Linked DNA regions of Homo sapiens. The protein of the gene in region 3 interacts with the protein of the main gene of each other region in a pairwise test. Each region holds a gene or a part of one and is shown on either strand. Other genes may lie near its edges.

Region 1 (3,500 bases), on a different chromosome or scaffold from region 3:
TTGCCACAAAAGTGTGTAGTACGGCTCAATTTAGCCTGTTGGCAGCCTTCCCTCACTCTTTACAGGTCTGAAAGAAAAGAAGAAAGCAGCCATTTCCATCCCTGACTTTAATTTAAACGCCCTTGCCAGGTATGCTGGGGACTCTTCACTTTCAGCCCTGTCTTAACTAATCCAAATAAATGATTATTCTGTTAGGAAAGTTAGGTAACACCCTTTCCATTTTGGTTTCCCATTTTGATTTAGCTCACTGTGAGCGCCTATGGAGACTAAAATAATTGTAGGCATAGCTTGTTTTACTCTTAGTGGTTCAACTAGAATTTTCTTCAGATAATTCCTAATACTGTTAAGCCAAGATGAAAATATTATTTTAAAAACTTTCTAAGAAGGCCATCAACTTGAACAGGAAGGAGGCGGCGCAGCATGATGAAGCACAGGCAGATCTGGGCTGGGATCCCGCTCCCCACTCCCTGTTGAGCGACCCCACAAGCTCAGGCTGCACCTCTGTACCACACGTGGGGGAGGAGCGTGGGCTGCTGCCAACCACCCACACCCAATCCTGGCTCTAGCTTATGGGGCACCCTTGGGTAAGTTAGCCTCAGAGAAAACAAGACAGCAGTGATTAGAACAGCGCCTCACACTAACTATTCAATGAGTATTACCAGCAGCAATCTGTGAGATGGAAAGAACAGAATCTAAGCCTTACAGGAAAACTGTAAGGGTTAAAATGCATGTCAAATACTTTGCACAATGCCTGGTACAGAGTAAAATTTCTGGAGCTAGAAGTCTTGTAGTAGTATGACTTTAAATTGTATTTTAGACAGAAATAGATTATTTACAAAGAGAACTGAAAACCAAAAAGTTTATGTATGTATGTATGTATGTATTTAAGAGACAGGTTCTCACTCTGTCACCCAGGCTGGACGGAGTACAGTGGTGTGATCTCGGCTCACTGCAACTTCTGCTTCCTGGGCTCAAGTGATTCTCCAGCCTCAGCCTCCTGAGTAGCTGGGACTACAGCCATGAGCCACCACACCTGGCTAATTTTTGTACTTTTTGTAGAGACAGGGTTTTGCCATGTTGCCCAGGCTGGTCTGGAACTCCTGAGCTCAAGCAGTCCACCCGCCTCGGCCTCCCAAAATGTTGGGATTACAGGTGTGAGCCACCACGCCTGGCCTAAAAAATGGATTTTAAATGCTTCTGTTTCCCAAAATAACTGCTTATAAAAGCAATGCACATTCAATGTGGAAAAATTGCCAACTTCTGGAAAGTATAAGGAAATGGAAAAAGTCTTTCACAATCCCCACCACTGAAGACAACTGTTCATATTTTGGCATACATGATGATGTGTGACCTGAACACATCACAGTTCAGCTTGGAGTAAGCAGGAAATGCAGACAGCTGCTGTTCCCTTAGCCTCACTGTGCAGGAGCCTCTGTCAGTGGATGTGCCTTGCCATGGTCGATGTCCTTCTAATGTTTAATGATCCGTCATTCTGTATAATGTAACCCCCAACCAAGCCAACTGCAGCATCTAGTGCTTAGCCTGGGGTTCCAAACCCCAGGAACTCCTGGCTGTGCTGGACTTGCTGAAAGATAGTGTATTACTGGTCTCCTGTGTGTTACCTTCCCTACACATGGTACTGAGGTTCTGAATTCAGCCTATAAAGTGAAAATTACAAAGACTCAGAATTTTTCTTGAAAATCTCTTATGCAGACACCACACAGATGAAGTAGTTGGTTATGAACTGTGATGTGTTCAGATGAGTCGTCTTTACTAGTTAATCTGCCTTGCTTAGTCTCTGATGAGCAAACACAACTGACTATGGAAGTGAAAAGTATGAATGTTGTGACTCCTATGTAATGAACACATAATACATATATTTGTATCTAATTTATCTTTCTGCTTCTATTTTATTCACAGTAAGTATCTAACTGTGGTATTAAAAATGCTCTGTAAACATTTGAGTGCTTGGTATATGGGATGGATATACTGTTATTTTGTAATTCATTCCTTATATTGAGCATTTAGGCTATTTGTAATTTTTGCTATATGCTGAATAAATGTCCACATCTCATATGCTTTTCCTTTAGGATGAATTCCTAGAAATAGATTTCCTGACTGAAGAGGAGATACGTGAACACTGGGAAAGCAAAGCTGCTAAATTTCCTGTCAGGAAAAACTATCTCAGTTGACATTCTCACAGGCAGTATGAGTGATTCTCTCATCAGTTTTTATTTTGATATGTAAAAAATGATACAACACTAATTTAACTTCTTTTTATTATTTATAAGGGTGATGTTTTCATAATTAAACTATTTCGTTCATCTTTATTTCCTTTTGTGAATCAACCATTCCTGACTTGTAAAACTGCAATCGTTCTGCTTTTTAAAAATTGACTTGTATAAACTCTATGAATTAAGAAATATAATCTCATTTTTGAAAATATTTTCTTCAGCTCATTTTCAGTTGTTGATGGTATATTTTAGCATACCAAAGTAGCCCCTTTTTTAATTGTAGTAAGATATAAATAACAAAAAATTTACCATTTAAACCATTTTCAAGTGTACCATTCAGTGGCTTAAAGTATAGTCACAATGTTGTACCACCATGACCACTATCCCAAACACCAACTCTGTCTCTGTGCCCATTAAACAATAACTCTCCATACCCTCTTCCCTCCAGACACCAGTTACCTCTATTTTACTTTCTGTCTCTATGAATTTGCCTATTCTAGGTACTTTTTATATGTGGGGTCATATAATATTTGTCTTTCGTGTCTGGCTTATTTCATTTAGCATAATGTTATCAAAGTTCATATTACAGTATCTGTTAGAACAAAGCAGTTAATTTCACGTGGTCAAAGGAAGGTCAGGGAAGTTTTCCTTGATGATCCTTACTGCTTTTAAGTACCAGATGATCAGTAAAAATTCATCCATTATTTCCTCCCATATTTTTGTTTGAACTTTAAAACTTAGCTCCTTAAGTTCATTTGAAATTTCTGGGTGTGAGCTGAGAATCTAAATAGATTTTATCAATAGTTTACTTCTCTCCAAGTACCATTTTCTGAACAATCCTTTCCTTCCCCATGACTTATGATGCCTCCTTTATCATATGTTAAATGTAGCTTTTGTCTCTAATTTGCCTCCATCCTCATCCCCCTACTTTGCAATTCCCCAAAGGGGCCAAGAGGCTCATTTCTGGTCTTTGCTGCATACTTGGCTCCCCCTGCCAGACCATCCTCAAACCAGCTCTGGTTGACTCACTCTTCCACACTTCCCACCAACTATCTCAAATCTTCTCAACTCAGACCTCTGGCCTCCCACCTACCTCCATACCCACCTTCACTCACAACCAGTGCCCTTGCCTCCTATCTGTACAAAGAAAGGAGAGCAGCTCCTCTCAGCAGACATAAACCTATCACTAGCTCCCCTTCACAGCTTTCATTATCCAGTCACAGCTTTCATTATCCAGGGTCATTCCTGCTCCTGTGCTGAGCTCAG
Region 2 (3,500 bases), on a different chromosome or scaffold from region 3:
ATGACAAAAGATAAAAGAAAGTCAAAGAATGAGGCGGAAAAAGGAGAGGCAACATGGATGAAAGGCATTTAAGTGGCTCTTAAAAGATAAGAACTGAACAAGTTGAGATAAAAGGAGGATACTGGAAGGTAGGCAGAAAGCATTCTAGGCAAAGGAAAGAACATGAACAAGTATGGAGGCAAGACAGCAAAAGGGAAAAAGCAAGTCCAGACTACCTGTAATATGGCAAGCAAAGAAAGGTAGAAACAGAATAGTAGCTGGTGAAAACATGATTAGAGGAGCATGTCAGAAGAAGTTTTCACAGCTTCCTTAAACCTGTAATGAGAGAACGGATGTGTCTTTTTGACATCCTTTTCCCTAAATCAGTAAGAGAATGAGACTACGAAAGGAATGGATGCATTTCCCATCTTACCTGAGGTAATGCAAGTCTGAGATCTCTTTCATACAAAGCCAACAGAATTCACAGCCACACACTGCACAGGTCATGTGATTACAGCTTCCATCATTCATCTTGATAATGTATGCACTGCATCGTGGGCATGGCTTGATGTCATCTGCTATGAGTGGGGGAAGAATGGGTAGAAAAAATACCCCTAGTTAAATCCAGTTTGATTTAATTGTTCCTAGGAGTATATATAAGAAATGAGGCAGCAGTCAAGAACTCTTCACTGAACACTCCAAATTGTACAACCCACTTTACTGGAAGGTTGGCTATGTCTAGACCTCAGGAATTTTCATAAAATGAATCCTGTCTCTTATTGAGCTGCCTATCCCAACAACTGGCATCTTACACAGCACTTGAACCACATTCTAGCAAGGAGATTTCCTTAGGGAGAAAGATGTTTCCAAGAAAAATGAAATTTCTACCAGTCGATAGGCTGGTAGATTTAAAAGAAGAATCCTACAGAAAGAATAGCCTGCAGCCTGGAATTAGCTTTACATTTTTAAAAACTTTAGTTTGGGAAATTTATTTTTCAGGTTCAACATGTATCATTGTGATTTGCTGTTAACATAGCCCACAATCCCTTCCCATGATACTTTCAAATTCAAAACCTAAAAACAACTGGGTATGCTATCTACCATATACTTGGTAATTTTCAGAGCAAGTTATGAACTATCCTAATAAAATGACAATTTAGGAAATTATGCTGTGCCAGGAAAAAGTGAATGGCAAAATCTTTCCTACTAGCCTCTCCCAAATGACATCAGCAAAATAAAAGTACAAAGCAATAAATCCACTGACATTTTAAAATAGGTTTCCTCTGACTCGCCAAGGTTGGAGCTGAATGTGTGACATTCCTCCTTTTAAGGTTAATCATTAATCTATACTAATACTGTTTCCTTTTCTTCAATCTGTACTCTACTTCCAAAGGCAGTGAGGCACTTAAGTCAGCTTGAAGGCAAACAGCACAGGTTTAATACTAATTAAATGTCTTTCTGTTCACAATGAAAGTTTTGAAAAAGCCCCTAGCAAAACAAAATGAACTAATTGCTCTCCAATCTGAGACATATTACTAAGAAAGTAGGAACTACATAATTCAATTTTGTTGCATTTCAATTTTATATAGTTGGATAACCTATAATGGTCAGAGAGGGAAGTGCTATCTTTATTATAATATTGAAAGTATTATCAAATGATATTTTCTGCTCTCTGATCCTTTGGAGTACTTGGGTTATACAATAAGATAATTTCTTTCAGCTATGGGCTCACATCATGAAATACCAAATAAAGAGACAATGAGATAATGCCAACTTATACCTGGTCCAGATTCTTGCCCATAACTGAGACCTGAAGTGTGTTTGGTCCGAACTCGTAAAGTCTGGGCCCTCTGTTGACGGGCCATATCGCATGTCTGATTTGGATGCCATATCTGCTTGCAGTGGTAGCAGAACTCAGTCTGGCAACCTTCCCTCTCACAAGTTAGCTTCGGGCAGCTGGCACAGCCATAGGCAATAACAGCATAACTAGGTAAGGAAACAGTAAGAGATACCAGTAAGGTAAGAATGATCTAACCAAAAGAGACATTATTCATCAGAGTTAACAATGTTTGGCACTACCCCACTATCACATATGATACAGAGAAAAGAATACACATACACACATATACACACACAAGCACATTTGACCAACTGTAAAATATATCCCATGTGAGAAAGTAAACTTTTTTTTTTTGAGACAGTCTTGCTCTGTCACCCAGGCTGGATTGTGGAGTGCAGTGGTGTAATCTCGGCTTACTACAACCTCCACCTCCCAGGTTCAAGCAATTCTCCTGCCACAGACTCCCTAGTAGCTGGGATTACAGGTGCAAGCCACCACGCCTGGCTAATTTTTTTTGTATTTTTAGTAGAGATGGGGTTTCACCATGTTGGCCAGGCTGGTCTCAAACTCCTGACCTCAGGTGATCCACCCGCCTCGGCCTCCCAAAGTGCTGGGATTACAGGCGTGAGCCACCATGCCTGGCTATAAATTTCTTGAGATTCCAAAAACACAAATCATTTATTTACTTTAAAAAGTGGAGGTGGAGTATCTTATTTATCCTGGATTTCCAGCATTTATTCAATCATAGCTGAAGCTGCTTTAGGAGTAGTTTGTCATAATAAGTTTCATAAATAACAGGGTACAAAACTATTTCCTTTTGATAGTTTGCTATATTTAGAGAGATTAGTATTTGTTTATACGAAGGAAGAGGACATTAGTGAAATAAAGAGCTATGGCAAAAACTAAAGTTTATTTTTTAATTCCTTCTTTTTTTTTTTTGAGATGGGGTCTCACTGTCACCCAGGGTGGAATGCAGTGGCTCACTGCAACCTCCGCATACCAGGCTCAAGCAATCCTCTTGCCTCAGCCTCTAGAGTAGCTGGGACTACAGGTGCGCACCACCACACTTGGCTAATTTTTGTAATTTGCATAGAGATGGGGTTTCGCCCCATTGCCCAGGCTGGTCGCAAACTTCCGGGCTCAATCAATCAGCCTGCCTCAGCCTCCCAAAGTGCTGGAATTACAGGCATGAGCCACCATGCTACCTTTTCATTCTTTTTTTTTTTTTTTTGAGATGGAGTCTCGCTCTGTCGCCAGGCTGGAGTGCAGTGGCGCGACTCGGCTCACTGCAACCTCCGCCTCCCGGGTTCAAGCGATTCTCCTGCCTCAGCCTCCTTAGTAGCTGGGACTATAGGCATGCATCACCATGCGCAGCTAATTTTTGTATTTTTGTAGAGATAGGGTTTCACCATGTTGGCCAGGATGGTCTCGATCTCTTGACCTTATGATCCGCCCTCCTCGGCCTCCCAAAGTGCTGGGATTACAGGCGTGAGCCACTGCACTCAGCCTTTTTCATTTTTTTTCTTCAAGTAAAAATTGTTTTATTGTCATTAACATATTTAATATAAAAAGAAATGAAGCAAATGGCTCAGTGTTGTATTTTTTAAAAAATCCAGGTTTGTGCAGGTTACTCTATTTACATCTGGGAGCAGAGCTGTCCCCACGTCAGGCATAGCAGTTG
Region 3 (3,500 bases):
GTGTTTATACAAAGATTTCTGAATATCTACACCAGTGATTCTCAATTCTGGCTGTATATATACACAGATTCAAGGACTCACACACTGGGATTGTGATGTATATTTAAAACAGGGTATATTTTCAAAGCCTCATACATGATTCTAAGATAGCCAGGACTGAGAAAAATCAATATAAATTTTTATGCATGAAACAGAGACATGTCCCTTTTAAAAACCTAAAAATAAAAATAATTGAAGATCAAGCTTACCCTTTCCAAGAGACTCATTTCTTGGAATTCAGGACTAGTGTTGGATAGCCGCTGCAAAGTATGGGTCAAATCATATGTTGTTGAAAAGTAAAATCCATCCACATTCAAGACATGGTTTAGCATCGCTAGGAAGGTTTTATTATCTTGTAACTATAAACAAAGAAAAATCAGTATAGCTCATAATTGAAAAGGAATCTGCCAGCATGAGAAAAGAATACAAATTAAATCCTGTTAAGTCCAGTCTCATTAAAGACTACTGGCACAAGGACTGAGCCAGTGAGGGGGATGCTCGCCATTTCCCTGGGATGTAGGACAGTTCCTGACACACAGAAGATACTCAATAAACACTGTAGGGTACTATTAGGTAACTTGATTAGGTAGGACTCCTCCCCTTTGTATCCTTTACAAATTTTATTCTCAAAGGCAGAAGAGTAGTTTTAACAAAACATCACCTTCGGTTATGACCTACTGTGTGCCAGGTATTTTCCAAAGATTCCCTTTAATCTTCACAACAGCCCTGCTAAGTTAGCATAGCTATCTTCGACAAATAAAACACATAAATTTACGACGGGCCCAATAATGCAAACAGCAAATAACAAGATACTAACATCATCCACATTCTCAAGAAACGTTCCCTGGTTTGGGATGGACGAGAAGTAAAATGGAATTCTTTTTCTTTAAAACAAAGATTAAAAAGTCCAGTAAAAGCAATATTTATCTTTATTTTTGGGAAACCATTTTAACTAGCTTTCCCAATGAATACTAAGATTGACATTTGTTTTTATCCTTGTTTTAAAAAACAATTGTTAATGTTTGGTAACGTTTAATCATTACTAAATGATTAACTTGTTAATCTACATGTTACAAATCTACATATACAAAATTTTTTATTTGTGCTCAGACATGTTTTTAAAATTAGCTACACAGCTTGACAACAAAGAATAACAATCGAGAAGAAATTGTCTAAGTAAATATGACTGGTCTATTAAATAAATACAGCTGTTTTTATTTCTTTAAAATATGCCTAGTAGAGAATGAAGATATTGATATATATTTCTTGATATATATAATAAAAAAGAAATTCTAAAGTATAAAAAGCATATCCTGTAGTTTTACTCAGGTAGGCAGTGCTATAATTTTATTTTTTAAAATGTTTATCCTAAGTTATATGTTTTAGAATAATATATTTTCTTCTAGAAACATTCTTATAAATTGGGTGTAAAAATACAACTTAAAATTTTTAAATAGCAAACATGTAACTAAAATTACATTAAGAAAACAATCACTCTCAACAGGTATATATATCTCTAAACAATGTTGACTTTAAAAAGTAAGTTTCAAAGAATCAGAACAGGGCAATGCCATTCATGTAAGTTTCATACACACTCCGAGCAAAAACAGATCCTGTTTAAATATGAATACAGGCAGTCTTTACTTTGTAAAGTGGGAATGTAAAAATTACCATGTTATTTTCATCTTAATAATCTTAAGCTATCTTAACAGTCAATTGTAAAAACTATGACTGTTTCATGACCTTTAAAAATTTTTTTTGTCAAAACATTAAAAACTCTATTGTAAGTTATAGATATTAGTTATAGATATTAACTTATATAGTTACGTTGTAGATGTAACTTGTAAGTTATATATAGTAAATTATAAGCATAAATGAACAAATTGTAAAACTAATATTTAGCACACTATAATTTAAAACATTAGAAACACCGAGAATAAAAAATATTTTCTTTGTAAAAAAATTTATCAAGAGACTTGAACAGTGCTTGCCGCCTTCTTGTCATATAGATTAAGATACAGAATATTTCTTCTATCCCTGGTGAACTGTCATACACCTTCCTAAGTCTAAACCAACTTCTGACATTTTATCCTTTGCACTTTCAATGTTGGGAAATATCTCCAAGGTTTCCTTTAATGGGAAGTCTGTTGCAGGCATCACTTTCTCTGGGATACTGTCATCCCTTTCGTCACAGCCACTCCATCATTAATGTCGGTCAGTTCGCCTGCACCAGGACCTCTGGCTGCATACCTACTGTCCCTTGAATGGTGAATAGTGTCAGCATTCCCATGGTCAGCTACTTCTTCTATGCTCCATTTATGTTCAATTTCAATTTCTCTTCCAGAGTTGTTGCTTTTTGTTTTTTTGCACCTTCATCTTTGGTGGGTTAATTCTTCAGTTAATAAACTGGAGTAACTGAAATTTAAGCCATGCTGTTTGGGTACTGGTGTTAACTAAACTATGGTTACTGAAATCTGTGCATACAGGAATAGTGCAAAAGGAAAACTGCCTGAAAGAATATATACACATTTCATAAACACACACACACACTTACATTCACATGTGGTAAAAATAGAGAAAACCTCTCTGGGAAAGAAGGGAATGAGTTAAGAGGAGTAGAACTTCAAAGGTATTTATATTTTATTTCTTTACAAAGAGGATATGAAGTTAAATCTGGTGTTGAGTACCCGTGCATTTCTGTTTTCCCTTCTCTCCATATGAAATTGCATAATTTAAGAACTGAATCTTTAAAAAAAAAAAAACAAGAGCAACAAATGATTTAAAAAATATTTTTTATGCCTAGGTAGAAAAGTAGGTAGAGTGATCTTACTCTATAGGTTGTTAAAATAATTATAGCATTCTTTGTATTCCACAACACCCTCACCCTCCTCTCCCCAGCCCATGCTACTTCTTTGGGCGCTGCAATTAGTAACAATTTCCAGTTCTTACCTGAATATCAGTTAAGTGCAACATTGTCTTCTTATAAGAAAGGACATCAAAATCTGTTGCTTTCCAGACTACATGACTGAAAAATTCACCTACTTTTATCTTTTTGGTAATGACTATAAGATAATTACCTGCAAAAAGCAAGCCAAACACACATAATTATAAAAATAGTAACTCTAAAGGTAGAAATAGGAGTCCTTATTGTTTAACTTTAAAGGCTAGTAGAATGAGACTATATTGTGCCACTCAGATAAAAGGCCCATTTTTAAAGCAACCTTACAATTTATGAATAGAAAGGTCAGCATATTATTTAGAAAAATTCTTACTGAAAGGTCATGTTTTTCTCAAAAAAGATAAAAGCAAAAGCTTTTCATAACCAAAGGATTTGTCTTAGTAAATGGAAAGTAGAGACAGAAAATACTTCTCTTTCTCTCTTTCATCACCCCCAAGGGATACAGACCTCTGCTAATCATTTCCCAGCAGGCAGCTTAAAGCATCAGGACGTGAGATCTGAC
Region 4 (3,500 bases), on a different chromosome or scaffold from region 3:
TCCAAAAAACTTGGGAGGGCAGCGAAAAAGGGTTAAAACTTCTATTTATGTTTATCGTTTCCTTAATCTTTCAAAAATCTCCACTGTAAGCCCATGAGGCCAGCCCTGGTGAGCTATTGGCAAAAGCTATTTGGAACAGGCCATTGGTAAGCTATCTGGAACAAAGTGGGGGCTGCCTCATGTTTACTCTTCCTACCAGAATAACTTCCAGCTAGTCAAAGCTCTAGGCATTAAAAATGCAGCTGCAGGCTGGGCGTTTCGGCTCATGCCTGTAATCTCAGCACTTTGGGAGGCTGAGGCAGGTGGATCACCAGAGGTCGGGAGTTTGAGACCAGCCTGACCAACATGGAGAAACCCCGTCTCTACTAAAAATACAAAATTAGCCGGGCGTGGTGGCACATGCCTGTAATCCCAGCTACTCGGGAGGCTGAGGCAAGAGAATCGCTTGAACTCCGGAGGCGGAGGTTGCAGTTAGCCGAGATCGCGCCATTGTACTCCAGCCTGGGCAACAAGAGCGAAACTCCATCTCAAAAAAAAAAAAAAAAAAATGCAGCTGCAAAAGTTTGGAAGAAAATATGGGTATGAAGATTATATATATACTATATATAATTATAATGTATAATATAATGTATAATAGTTATAACATATATTATGTACATATAATATGTATTATATATATAAAATCTTGTAGCAGGAATTAGACAATAGCAAAACCATGGAACCTTAAAGGAAAAGATAGTCACACTTGCAGATTATAAAAATTTTTAAATCCTGTATAGCAAAAAAAACATAAAATTCAAAAGACAAATGATGAACTAGGAGAAATTTTACAAGTGCTATGGTAGACAAAATACTAAATTCATTATAAAGTTATCAATAAATATGCAGAAACAGAATAGCAAAATAGGCAAAAGATATAAAAAGGCTATCTCTTAATAAAGAAACACAAACGACTTTTAAAAATTCCCAATGTTTGGCCGGGTGCCATGGCTCACACCTGTAATCCCAGCACTTTGGGAGGCCGAGGTGGGCAGATCACCTGAGGTCAGGAGTTCAAGACCAGCCTGGCCAACATGGTGAAACCCCATCTCTACTAAAAATACAAAAAATTAGCTGGGTGCAGTGGCGCGTGCCTGTAATCCCAGCACTTTGGGAGGCCGAAGCGGGTGGATCACGAGGTCAGGAGTTCAAGACCAGCCTGACCAACATGGTGAAACCCCTCTTTACTGAAAATACAAAAAAAAAATTAGCCAGGCATGGTGGTGGGTGCCTGTAATCCCAGCTACTCAGGGGGCTGAGGCAGGAGAATTGCTTGAACCTGGGAGGCAGAGGTTGCAGTGAGCCGAGATCATGTCACTGCACTCCAGCCTGGGTGACAGAGCGAGGGTCCGTCTCAAAAAAAAAAAAAACAAAATTAGCTGGGTGTGGTGGCACATGCCTGTAATCCCAGCTACTTGGGAGGCTGAGGCAGGAGAATCGCTTGAACCTGGGAAGCAGAGGTTGCGGTGAGCCGAGGTCGCACCATTGCACTCCAGCCTGGGCAACAAGAGCGAAACACCGTCTCAAAAAAAAAAAATCTCAATGTTTTATAATGTAATATATTCAGTAGTTCATATGCAATTTATAAATAAACAGAAATATATCAGAGGTACATACTGAAAATTTTCTTACTAACAGGAGTGTTCCATTGAAAAGCAGAGAAGCCACTGCTCTTCACCACCCCCTGGGTTCTTTCTGCAGAAATTTTGGGATGAGACCTACTGCTTCCTGGAGAGGGGAAGTGGGAAGGGGACAGCCGCTCACCTCGATCTTGCCCTCCTTGGCGGCCAGCTTCAGAGGCGTGAGATCCTGCAGGTTGCGGATGTCCTCAAGCTGCACGGTAGGGCAGAGGCGGGCCCCAGCTTGGAGGAGCCCATCATACATGCTGGTCACCAGTGCAATGTTCTCAGCTGAGTTGTCCGAGATCATCACTAGGGCATGCAGGACTGTGTTGCCCTGGGAGTCAGTGGCCTGCAGGCTGGCGGGCTGGTGTGGGTTCTCCAGGAGGTAGCTTACCACATCCCACTGCTTGGTGCAAGCGGCCAAAGAGAGGGGTAGCTCACCTGCAGGCCAAGAGAGCAGCTTGGGCCCCAGGCCTCCTGCTTTCCATCTGCCTACTCCTCATGCTCCTTGGACAAAAGGCCAGCCCTCCTTGAAACAGGTCAGGCTTCTTTACCACTGAAGGGAGCAGAACAGGGGCCAGCCAACCTGCTGCCTTTTGCTGTCTTCTTTGCCAGAGCCCAGGCATGCTGCCTCTTTATTCAGGCTCTGCCTGGCCAAGTCACATGCCAGTGCTAGCAGCCCCTATTTCTTTCCCTGGGTCTGGGTCTGGGTGCATGCCCGTCTTCTGGCCAGACGAGGATGAAACATCTCTTATGACAAATTAATGCTGGATGTGGTGGCACACACTTGTAGCCCCAGCTCGAGAAGCTAAGGCAGGAGGATTGTTAGAACCCAGGAGTTTGAGGCTGGCCTGGACAAAAGACAAACTGCTTTTGCAGGCAGCCTAGTGGTTAGAAGCAGGGCATCGGGGTCAGAAAAACCTAGGTTTAACTGCCAGCTCTGTCATACACTAACCATGTGACCTTGAACCAGGCCTTACTCTCTCTTTGCCTCGATTTATCCAAGAAAGGCTCACTCACCGAAATAAAAGCAAGTCCCTTGGCCCTTCTGGAAGAAGCGGCCGCAGGCCCGGGCATGCACATTGGCCCCATTCTCCACCAGGAGCTTCACACACTGCAGACTCCTCTTCTCAATGGCGATGTGCAGAGCGCTGTGGCCTCGGTAATAGTCATCTGTGCACTGGGCATTTACCAGGGGCTGAGGATTGCCAGAGTCCCTGTCGATCTGCAGCAGTGGCAGAATGCAGGCATTGACTCCGTCCTTAAGGTTCAGCACAGCCTTCATCAGGCACGTCTTACCTGTGGAGCCCTCTGTGGGAAGAAGGGAGGGGAAGGGGCACAGTGGTGCTGAGACCTGGAGTGGCTGGGCTGCCCGATAGCTCTTATAAGCCCAGCTCAAAGTACCCCTTGGGAGGATTAAAAGAGATGCTACACATAACTGGTGGGAGCACAACCATGTTATAGGCTATTAAGGCTCCAAGTAACAGATAAGAAATACCAACAGACATGACTACAATTTCTGCCCTAGAAACGAAATTTCTTTTTTTTTCTTTTTCTTTTCTTTTCTTTTCTTTTTTTTTTTTTTTTGAGACAGAGTCTTGCTCTGTCACCCAGGCTGGAGTGCAGTGGCGCAATCTTGGCTCACTGCAAGCTCTGCCTCCCAGGTTCACGCCGTTTTCCTGCCTCAGCCTCCCCAGCAGCTGGGACCACAGGCGCACACCGCCACACCCGGCTAATTTTTTTTGTTGTTTTGTTTTGTTTTTTGTTTTCAGCAGAGACGGGTTTTACCGTGTTAGCCAGGATGGTCTCGATCTCCTGATCTCATGATCTGCCCACCTC

What was found.
Region 1: the proteins of SACM1L (region 3) and MTERF2 interact in binary tests that used the Homo sapiens proteins (3 or more experiments, as listed by UniProt).
Region 2: the proteins of SACM1L (region 3) and RNF19B interact in a two-hybrid assay, tested with the Homo sapiens proteins (one large-scale study listed by BioGRID and IntAct).
Region 4: the proteins of SACM1L (region 3) and TRPV2 interact in a protein complementation assay, tested with the Homo sapiens proteins (one study listed by IntAct).

What each region holds. Positions count from the first base shown.
Region 1 is NC_000012.12:106,980,647-106,984,146, forward strand, and holds part of MTERF2 (transcription termination factor 2, mitochondrial precursor), read right to left. Parts: intron 68-3,500; exon of another isoform or gene 1-67. UniProt on the Homo sapiens protein: Binds mitochondrial DNA and plays a role in the regulation of transcription of mitochondrial mRNA and rRNA species.
Region 2 is NC_000001.11:32,947,810-32,951,309, forward strand, and holds part of RNF19B (E3 ubiquitin-protein ligase RNF19B), read right to left. Parts: coding exon of another isoform or gene 3,485-3,500; exon of another isoform or gene 3,399-3,484; intron 1,966-3,398; coding exon 1,760-1,965; intron 558-1,759; coding exon of another isoform or gene 555-557; coding exon 413-554; intron 1-412. Other genes in the region: metallothionein-1E-like, read right to left, coding at 3,485-3,500.
Region 3 is NC_000003.12:45,706,396-45,709,895, reverse strand, and holds part of SACM1L (phosphatidylinositol-3-phosphatase SAC1), read right to left. Parts: intron 3,117-3,500; coding exon 2,989-3,116; intron 399-2,988; coding exon 249-398; intron 1-248.
Region 4 is NC_000017.11:16,422,071-16,425,570, reverse strand, and holds part of TRPV2 (transient receptor potential cation channel subfamily V member 2), read right to left. Parts: intron 2,973-3,500; coding exon 2,682-2,972; intron 2,103-2,681; coding exon 1,804-2,102; intron 1-1,803. UniProt on the Homo sapiens protein: Calcium-permeable, non-selective cation channel with an outward rectification. Seems to be regulated, at least in part, by IGF1, PDGF and neuropeptide head activator. May transduce physical stimuli in mast cells.